Regions from separate parts of the Homo sapiens genome. Here region 1 is linked to region 2. Evidence: fine-mapped expression QTL. A gene starts in region 2. The other region holds a variant in brackets. All regions are shown on one strand. Distances are from middle to middle. Region 1 has its middle 6.5 kb from the start of ZC3H11B. Region 2 holds the start of LYPLAL1-AS1 (LYPLAL1 antisense RNA 1).

The links. PIP is the estimated chance that this variant, and not a neighbour inherited with it, causes the effect.
Region 1: its variant is fine-mapped to the expression of LYPLAL1-AS1 in unexposed skin (GTEx, PIP above 0.99).

The regions. Positions count from the first base shown.
Region 1 is chr1:219,616,910-219,622,294 of GRCh38, reverse strand. No RefSeq gene overlaps it. Among named protein-coding and RNA genes, the nearest start is that of ZC3H11B, 6.5 kb to the right of the region's middle. The variant A/C (reference allele first, on the strand shown) is at 3,330.
Region 2 is chr1:219,554,839-219,560,223 of GRCh38, reverse strand. LYPLAL1-AS1 (LYPLAL1 antisense RNA 1) reads left to right here and starts at 2,900. Exons shown (of 4, transcript NR_135822.1): 1 at 2,900-3,033. It overlaps LOC124904514 (a long non-coding RNA gene), which reads right to left and starts at 4,824. Exons shown (of 2, transcript XR_007066882.1): 1 at 4,747-4,824; 2 at 2,517-3,031. RefSeq lists an enhancer at 4,511-5,210.

The DNA.
Region 1 (5,385 bases), 62 kb before region 2:
ACAATCATGTCATCTGCAAACAGGGACAATTTGACTTCCTCTTTTTCTAATTGAATACTTTTTATTTCTTTCTCCTGCCTGATTGTCCTGGCCAGAACTTCCAACACTATGTTGAATAGGAGTGGTGAGAGAGGGCATCCCTGTCTTGTGCCAGTTTTCAAAGGGAATGCTTCCAGTTTTTGCCCATTCAGTATGATATTGGCTGTGGGTTTGTCATAAATAGCTCTTATTATTTTGAGATACGTCCCATCAGTACCTAATTTATTGAGAGTTTTTAGCATGAAAGGCTGTTGAATTTTGTCAAAGGCCTTTTCTGCATCTATTGAGATAATCATGTGGTTTTTGTCTTTGGTTCTGTTTATATGCTGGATTACATTTATTGATTTGCGTATGTTGAACCAGCCTTGCATCCCAGGGATGAAGCCAACTTAACCATGATGGATAAGCTTTTTGATGTGCTGCTGGATTCGGTTTGCCAGTATTTTATTGAGGATTTTTGCATAAAAAAATTTTATTAAAAATCAAAAAAAAAAAGCATTTCAGGTTATTCTTATCATCAGCCAGCTTGGAAAACTCTGTAGAGTAGAAAATGCTAAGGCTCAAAGGTAAGAAGTGTTTGGAAACTGAGCAGTTCCATCTGGCTGGATTGTGAGGTGTGGAATGGGAGTCAGTGAGAGATGAGGTAAGTAGGAGCCAGTTTACGAGAGACCTTGGAGGCCAGCCAAGGAGCCCTGGCATTATCTAAAGGCTGTGAAGGCCATGGAAGCATTTTAAGGATGTTAAGACTATGACTATTTTTAAAAGTCTTAGACTTTTGGATGGCTATAAGAGTGATTGGGAGTGGTGCTGGAATTAGAAGATAGAGAAAGAAAGAAGATATCTATGGCGTTGAGCTTCCTACAAAGGTTTGGGATGCAGATATGTATTAGAAGTCATCCTGACACACATGGTAATTGGACACCTTGGTCAAATTGGATCTTTTCCATTTCTTTTTTCCAACCCATATATCGATCTCCCCTTTTCTCAGCTACCCATGTGTGACTGTATCTACAGCCAACAACCTGTGACCTTGATCCTGTGTCCACATCCCCAGGACCTGTGTGCTGGGTCTGCCTAGACTTCTGCTCTCAGCTTTTCCTTTCATAACTAGTCTGACTAATACCTCCATTCTCATTGGGTATTTCTGCGAGGGGTGCAGAGGCTGCTCTTCTATCTTCTTATGCCATATGCTGGATTAGTACTTGATTGTGGGGAAGAAGTTTTCTACAGCTCTAAACCTCTATAGTTTCTCACAGAAAAATTGAATTAGGCCCAATTCATGATGGGAAGCCTCTCCTACATCTGGCTGATTAGCAGCTGTCAGACAATGGATTAGGATGCCCTTTAGGGTTTTGGATTTAGGATAACAGCAGGTAATTTAGGAAAGCTGACTCACCTGTTTCACCTCTCTCTTCGAACCTTTATCTTTGAAACCAGACTTTTGCTTTGGAAACATTGTTTCTGTTTATCTAGTATTGGTTTTTATGGTACTAATAATAGAGTAACCAGGGTATTGAAAGAGCGGTTCTCCATTGGGTGCAAGCAGCAAACTACATTATTTTTTTTCTCACTGTCCCTTTAGACAAAATCTGTGGATTAGTTTTTCCTTGCTTTTTGGCTGAAATTTTGGGCAGGGTCCTAACTTTGCAGACACTTTTTGATAATTAAAAAGTCCACTAGTCACTTTTAGCCCCAAGATACATAATTAACATTTGCTGTCCAGTTTAAATATCAGCATGGCAATACTAAAACATAATATTATTTTAGCCTGGAAAGCCATCAGGGGAGGAGAGATTTATGGTAGATTTCTCCTTCCAGATGAAGTTGTCTCCTTTCAGGGGACAAATAAATTCTCTGTGTGGTCTTCTTAGAGCCTCTTGCTGTAGATTGAGATGCAGGAGAAATTCTGTCTCCCCACCCCCAATTAAAAACACTTTCTAGAGAAAACTCTTCTGTCCCTTTAACTTCAAATGTTTTATACCCTAGAGTTGGGTGATGGGCTAAGGCTGACCTGCCAGTTTCAAAACCACATAGACAGCTTAGCCTCTCTCTGTGTAACGTGAAGGTCCTTGGCATCTGGTGTTTTGTTCTTGGTCTTTATGTCTTGGAAAAAACTGAATGAGAAAGAGTCACAAATAAGATTCCATTAACAAATTAATTTTGGCCAGTGCTATATATTTTACAAAGTGTTTTCACATGTATTGATTTCATTTGTTTTGTAGTAATTCCATGAAGTACACAGGACAAAAAAATGAGACTCAGATAGGTTAACCGGCTTGTAGTGTATGAGGCTAGGGAGATATTAATGGTGGAAGCTGGACTGAAACCTAAGTCTCATAGCTTTAGTCTGGTTTAGGAGTTATCCTAGTGGAGTGGAAATATAGTAAGTTTTAAAATGGGCCCAAATCCAGCTTTACTCATTATTATCTTGTAACTTTTATACAAATTTCTTAAACTTTCTGATCCTTAATTTCCTAATGTAAAATGGAGATAATACCATCCTTATCCAGGATTTTGATGCAGATGAAATGATATAAATGCAATGCTGCGGATCTTGTTAAAACGCAAGTCTGGATGGCACCTGAGATTCTGAGTTTCTAAAGGCTCCCAGGTGATGCTGATGCTGCTGGTCAACCATGAATGGCAAGAGCATCATTCATTTCCAGCACTTGGTACATAGGAGATGTGTAGGGAAAAGAAAGAGAGATCAGACGGTTGTGTCTATGTAGAAAAGGAAGACATAAGAAACTCTATTTTGACCTGTACCCTGAACAATTGCTTTGCCCTGAGATGCTGTTAATCTGTAACTTTGCGCCCACCTTGAGCTTATAAAAACATGTGTTGTATGGAATCAAGGTTTAAGGGATCTAGGGCTGTGCAGGATGTGCCTTGTTAACAAAATGTTTACAGGCAGTATGCTTGGTAAAAGTCATCGCCATTCTCCGTTCTCGATAAACCAGGGGCACAATGCACTGCGGAAAGCCGCAGGGACCTCTGCCCTGGAAAGCCGGGTATTTGTCCAAGGTTTCTCCCCATGTGATAGCCTGAGATATGGCCTCATGGGATGGGAAAGACATGACCGTCCTCCAGCCTGACACCCGTGAAGGGTCTGTGCTGAGGAGGATTAGTAAAAGAGGAAGGCCTCTTGCAGTTGAGGTAAGAGGAAGGCCTCTGTCTCCTGCCTGCCCCTGGGAACTGAATGTCTCCGTATACAACCCGATTGTACATTTGTTCTATTTTGAGATAGGAGAAAAACCGCCCTGTGGCAGGAGGCAAGACATGTTGGCAGC[A/C]ATGCTGCTCTGTTACTCTTTACTCCCCTGAGAAGTTTGGGTGGACAGAAGCATAAATCTGGCCTATGTGCACATCCAGGCATAGTACCTTCCCTTGAACTTATTTGTGACACAGATTCCTTTGCTCACATGTTTTCTTGCTGACTTTCTCTCTACTATCACCCTGCTCTCCTACTGCATTCCTCTTGCTGAGATAGTGAAAATGGTAATCAATAATGAGGGAACTCAGAGACCTGTGCCAGTGTAGGTCCTCCGTATGCTGAGCGTCGGTCCCCTGGGCCCAGTGTTCTTTCTCTACATTTTGTCTCTGTATCTTGTTTCTTTTCTCAGTCTCTCATCCCACCTGATGAGATATACCCACAGGTGTGGAGCGGCTGGCCCCCTTCAGAGACGCTCAATAAATGTGTGTTTCCTTCTCCTTCCTGAATAGTCCATCTGCTCTGCTCTCCATCTGACTTTAGGATCCACTAACTTGTTATTTGGAACGTACTCATAGGTAACACAGAATTCACATTTAAAGGACATACATACACAAACTCCTCATCTGGTCCTCTTTGAGTCAGTTGGAGGGCAGAACGTAGCAGTATCATAATTCGGGCTCTCCATAATATGGCACCAGCAGCACGAACATAAGAAAAGCTACCTAGATCATAGGGGATGCTGGATTCCAGGTTCTCAAACAACAACTTTATCTTCACTGAGCTAAGAAATAAGTGGAGGGCTTGCCAGAAAGAATTTAAAAGATTGCTTTTAGAGTTATTTTAAAGAAATGAGATGATTGTTACAAATACAGAGATAGCTTATGACACCGTACAGGATGGCCAAAAGCCATACACCAGTTATACTTTTGATAATAATTTTTCAATTATGATTTACTGAGGAGGGAAAGACAAAAATATTTTCAAACCCAAAGCCTAAGCTCTGCTCCTGAGCACATCTGTTTGAATTCTGACATGGCAGCATATTGGCATGTGTTTAAGCTTATTAATCCTTAAGAAGGTGTAAAGGGATCATGGAAAAATCTTTTTTTGCCTGTAAAGAGCTGCAAATTTTGCCTTTAATATTCAGTTCCTTTTGTGTCATAATCGAGTGGCATCTTCAGTTGTCAGCAGCTTAAAAGATAAACTTAATTTGAAGAGGGAGGGGAATTTCTTTAATATATTTATTATATAAATGTATATAATTTTTAAGTTGCCTTTTTAATGCTTATTTGGGATACTTGATCTTTCCTCTTGAGTAAAAGCCCCTTGGCTATTAACAAACTGGGCATATTAGCGACTGAACTAGGCTGAGATGAAGTAGAATGAATCCCTTCCCTAGGTGGACACAATCAGAAGACTCCATCCCTTTTCCCCAGGTGGCTGTGGTCTGTGTGGCTTACAGTGTGTAGGAGGGAACATTGACGTATTGAGCACATGCAGTGGAAAAAAAAAAAAAAAACCAACAGGGATAAAATAGTTTGTGGTATAGGAAAGCACATTTTGTTTATTAATAGAAAAGACTAGAATATGCAGTAATTTTCTTGCAAAAGTAACAGAAATTTATAGAAGTTAGAAGAGTGCAACAGAACAATTTGTTGTCCCTGGAAATTTTTTCATTACCAATAAATGCAGACCATAATAACATGTTTGCTATATTTTTCCATTGCAAAAGTAATACTTATAAAACAATATTTGGAAATATAGAAAGTTAGTGAAAATGTATCCATATTTTTGGCATTCAAAGGCAACTAAGTTTAACATTTTGTAATGTTTCTTTTCTGCCTTTTCTTTGAAAAAAAAAAATTGGTTTCTGAAAATATTTTTGACCAGAATGTGTGGGTTGATGGCCTCAGACCCACCAAAAAATGAGGTCATTGACCCCACTATAATAAGACAGGGCTATCTGCCTGTAGTTTCCAAGGAAGATAAAGTCTCAGCAAATAAATTCTCAATGTCTTACACTCCTTGTCAAACATTGTAACCCTTTTATTCTATTTTATTTTATTATTATTATTTTTTTAGATAGAAACTCGCTCTGTAGACCAGGCTGGAGTACAGTAGTGCTATCATAGTTC
Region 2 (5,385 bases):
AGCAAGACTCACTCTCAAAAAAAAAAAAAGAAAAAAAGAAAATGTATGTCATTCTCACTGTTCCTTCTGCTGCTTCCTTTAAGTTTTTTCCATTCATTCTAACTCAGCAAGCCAAAATACAACATTCTTTCATTTCTATTATCCTGGGAAAAATGGTTAAAGGACTAAACTAAGATTAGAACACATATAAAAATCAATCCTGATGCTTACAAAAAGAAAGCAAGACTCTAATTCTGAAAAGCTCTGCCAGTGTGAATATAGTGGATGCCACTTGTTTGAGTTAAATATTAAATTTTCCTCCAGGCTGTTCACAGTTCCTTTCTCCAAAATACTTTGTGGGAGGTAGAGATTTTCCCAGCCCAACTGTTCCAACAACATTCTCAACAGAAACAATTCATGATCATTATACAAAATTCACCAAATACAGAAATGTACAAATATGAAAATTAAAACTGCCATATCCCAACCATTCATGAATCACTGAAACATTGTACTGTATGTCATTCCAGTTTTATTCTATAGATAAATGTGACTACCAATCCATCCATCCTTTGTCTGAATCAGAGCCTCAGATTCATTTATAATTTGATGGGATATTGTATTAGTCTGTTCTCATGCTGCTAATAAGGACATACCCGAGACAGGGTAATTTATAAAGGAAAAAGGTTTAATTGACTCATAGTTCCACATTGCTGGGGAGGCCTCACAATCATGGTGGAAGGTGAATGAGGAGCAAAGTCACATCTCACATGTCAGCAGGCAAGAGCACTAGTGCAGGAAAACTCCCATTTATAAAACCATCAGATCTCAGGAGACTTACTCAGGACCATGAGAACAGTATGGGGGAAACCGCCCTAGTGATTCAATTATTTCCACCTGGCCCTGCCCTTGACACCTGGGGATTATTACAATTCATGGAGAGATTTGGGTGAGGACACAGCCAAACCACATCAGATGTTTATATACTAAAAATTAAATATTATACTAGTTTAAAACTTATGAAGTTCTACCATAAAAGTTGGTAGACTTATTGTATATAAATTAGGGATTATAGACAAACCATTTATCTATTATCTAGATATTAAGTACCTTTATTAAAATATAGTTATAAAATTTATAAATGATATAATAAGGAACAAAGGGGCTAAGTGATAGTGTCCCAATTACACAGTGAATATTTAGGAAAAACAAGCTAGAAATCATAGTCTCAGAGCCTACATCTATGTTCAGACACTCAGAAATCTGGTTGAAAGGGTTGAAATCTGTGATTGCCATTAAGATTCATTTTGAGGTCTAGCGATATATTTTTTAAATGTTCTGTATTTGATGTTTTTCAAATTGCAAATGATAGTTCATACTTTTTTAAAAAGTAAATGTACTAATAGAAAATAAAGGTGTAAAGGGCAAAACTACACATCTCAGGGCCACCATATATGGTTGGGAAAGTTCTGCGTTGCAGAAGGGCATAACAGCTCATGCGGTTCCTGTCATGGCAGACAGTGAAGATTTTTATATTTATTACAGTAATTTTTTAGTAGATGACAGTATATTATGACAATGTTCCAACAGAGAGAAATAAAGTGTCTTGAGTAAGGGGTATCTTTAATTGGCAGCATCTCTGGTTACTCTCCAAACCCATGTCCTTTCGTTGACTTTTTTTTTTTTTTTTTTTTGAGACGAAGTCTTGCTCTGTCACCCAGGCTGGAGTGCAGTGGCGCGATCTCGGCTCACTGCAAGCTCCGTCTCCCAGGCTCACTGCAAGCTCTGCCTCCCAGGTTCACGCCATTCTCCTGCCTCAGCCTCCCCAGTAGCTGGGACTACATCGTCGCATTCTTATATTGCTGAATCAATAATATCTGACAGAAATCGTCTAAGTCGACTGATGTTTTCAATGGAGGTGTCCTATCTCTTATACAACTTATGATGTGAACTTGAAAGGCCTAATGGGATATAGTAGCTACTGATAGCTCATATTTCAAGCAACCATGTACATAAAATCATCAGAATTTTAATTTTGCCATGTAATTCAGTGGAACATTTCTGTAATCGATGCTCATGTTAATGTTAGAGAAAAGCATTGCCTCATCTTGAAATACTTTCTAAACTTTCGAAGAAAGGTTAAATTATATTCAAGATTTGTGTAGTGTTGGATTTTTTTTTTGGTTATGCTCTTTGAAAATGGTTGATCTATTGCTTATATGTGCAATGAGTCTTTGTTTGTTTGTTGGTTGGTTTGTTTTTGACACATGGTCTTGCTCTGTCGCCCAGGCTGGAGTGCAGTGGCATAATCTCGGCTCACTGCAATCCCTGCCTCTCAAGCTCAAGCGATCTCCCACTCAGCCTCTCAAGTAGCTGGGACTACAAGCATGCACACCTCCACACCCAGCTAATTTTTGTATTTTTTTTGTAGAAATGGGGTTTCATCATATTGCCCAGGCTGGTCGCGAACTCCTGGGCTCAAGCAATCGGCCCACCTTGACCTCCCAAAGAGCTGAAATGAGAGGTGTGAGCCATTGTGCCCAGCCTGTGCAATGAGTCTTTATTGGAATAAATTAAATTACATATTTATATGGGGCTTCAAAACATCTTCCCATAACCTTGGTATTTGATCTTTGCAACTGCAACAATATAAGGCAGGAAGTGTCAGTTTCCCAGTTTCCCTGTAGAGGAAGAAGCATTGGCTTAGTACTGTGGTTTGAATGTCCTCTCCAAAACTCATGTTGAAACTTAATCCCCAATGTGGCAGTATTGAGAGGTGGGCCTTTACGAGGTGATTGGTTATGAGGGCTTGGCCTTCATGGATGGATTAATCCATTCTTCAATTAATGGGTTAATGGATTAATGAGTTATCATGGGAAGGGAACTGGTGGCTTATAAGAAGAGGAAGAGAGTGCTAAGTGGGCACATGGGAGCACCCTCAGCTCCCTCTCCATGGGATACCCTGTGGGGCACTTCAGAGTCCCCACCAGCAAGAAGGCTCTCTCTCACCAGATGTGCCCCCCGCCAACCTTGGATGTCTCAGTCTCCAGAACTGTAAGACATAAATTTTGTTTCTTATAAATTATCCAATTTCAGATAGTCTCTTATAAACATTCAAAAACAAACAAAGACATTTTGAGAGGATGAGTATCTTGCTCAAGGCCCTGTGATCACAAAGATGCAGGGCCAGTTGGGTACTCAGTCTTTATAGGGCCCCACAGTGCTTTAGAGGGGAAATAATAAGAACCCACCATTTTCTGACCACCCTAATTAATTGGGGATTTGCTCTGCTTTGGATACTATAAAAGATACCAGTACAGCTCATGGGATCAATGTCCTCTTCTTCGCTAGAGGAGTCCCTTGCTGTGATTCTCTTGGATACATTTTAGGACTTTCTTCCGTGTTTCTCAAATGCCATAGGAACGCATTTGCTTCCACTTTCTGCCCTATCCCACCGATCTCCTTCCTACCTCTCACACACATTTGAAAGGCTGAATGAGTCTACTAATGATTTTAGTGACTGAAATGCAATCTAATAGAATAATAGACTATTAATTAACATCAATAAATAATGTACTTTTGTTCAAGTTTACAGTTATAGTGGTTTATAGCTACCAGCACTTTACAGTTTACAAAAACCCTTTCCTTCATTAACATCTAAAAATAATCTCCTGTTGGATTGGATAGATCTGACTTTAGTTAAGCCTCATGATTTTAGCTTTCTGGAGTGGGGAGAGGGGCATATACTTTAGAATAAAACCATTTCAGTAAGGTGTGATGAAATTAAACTTAGGTCACGGTGTTTAGTTAACATCTCAGGAACACCACCACCAATGAAAAGCAAAGCCTTCTTCCTTTTAAATTAAATAATGAATAGTTGGATATTTTTGTTAGGAGCTGGTGGGTTAGGTAACTGCACTTATTTACATTTTAGAATTACAGGCTAAAGACTAATTAACTGGTTAGAGCATATGCAATGGACCGTGGCAGTCTGCAAAGATTAACAAATTAATTAGTTATTTCCATCCGTTACAATTTTATTCTTTTCCTTGGAAATGAGTGGCCTGTTGATTTCAGCCTTTAAAAGTTTCAGAGCAGGGCTGTTCATTCAGCTTTCTGAATGGCTGAATAGAACAATAAGATTGTGTAACAACTGGGACACGTCAGTGCCTTCGTCAGGGGATAATGTAAGCTATAGAAAGCCCTTTTCATCTTTTAGCAAGGGCCCATTATTCCTATGTATCTCTCTTCTCTGCTTTATGAAAAGGTTTGTACAGTAAATAATGACCAACTATGTAGTAGTTCTTTCTTCTTTTGCCAAGCTCTTTTTAGCTTTGGCAGCAATTTTGTTTTCCCTGTCATCATCTAATGTCTATTTATTTTACATTGCTACAAAGCCAGTGAAATTCCCTTATAAATCCCAGGTCATGAAGATGAAGCAGCAATTCGATTCCTTTTATTAAACGTCTCCAGTGTCCTCTGCTTTTTCTAATTAGGTTCAAAGTGGTCAGTGGCTTAAAAAGCCTCTGGGCAGGAATCAAATCTGTTTGAACAACGCATTCCTAAAGGCCATGCATATTAGATCCTTGGATTTAATTAGAGGAGAGGTATCAAAACTCAGATACTCTCTGGATGCATTTAGGATTGTCACCGAAAGGTCCTGTTTCTACACAGGCTATTTGACCAAATTCCTCTCCTCCCTTTGGCTCTCCCTCCCCTCAACATACAATAGACATTAGGTATTCAGAGCCTGGGGCTATTACTCACCACTGGTTCTCAGAGGCTGCAGTTTTCTTTTGTCAGCATTGCCACAGCATGAAGGTGAGAACAAGAAGCTCTGAAACTGAAGAGAAAAAGATAAAAGGAAAAGTATGCAGGAGAAAAGAGAGGCTCTTTAACTGCTCTGTCAACTCGATTTCTCTCCTCTGCCCCAGGCGTGTTCTGAAGATGGATGGGCGTAGGTACAGGTGGTACATGACAGCAGCTGTGATTTCCATCTGGGTACCATTTAGGAGCAGATAGATTTTTCAGGCCATAGTCTCTTTCAATTGTTGTGGTTAGAGAGCGAAAGTGAGAGGCCCACTGTGTTTTCTTCCACCTCAGGTGCTATTGTTCCAAACCATTGTTTCTCCCAGGGTTGGCTTGCTATCAAAGAAGAGAATTAGAAGGGAATTATTTGATTGTGGGGTGAGTGAATGCGAGAGTTAACTGATGAGAGGTGGTGGAGCTCAGACGCAAACCATCTCATGGAATACATTAGATATTAGATTTATCCAACACGTACTCCTCATATTGTCTATTTCCCTCCTTCTAAGCTATAAGACTGTCAGGGGACACGGTGCTCTTCTGGGGAGTAATGTACACATTTGTGTCTGTGCAGTGCTAAAACAACTGGTTGAACTGTGA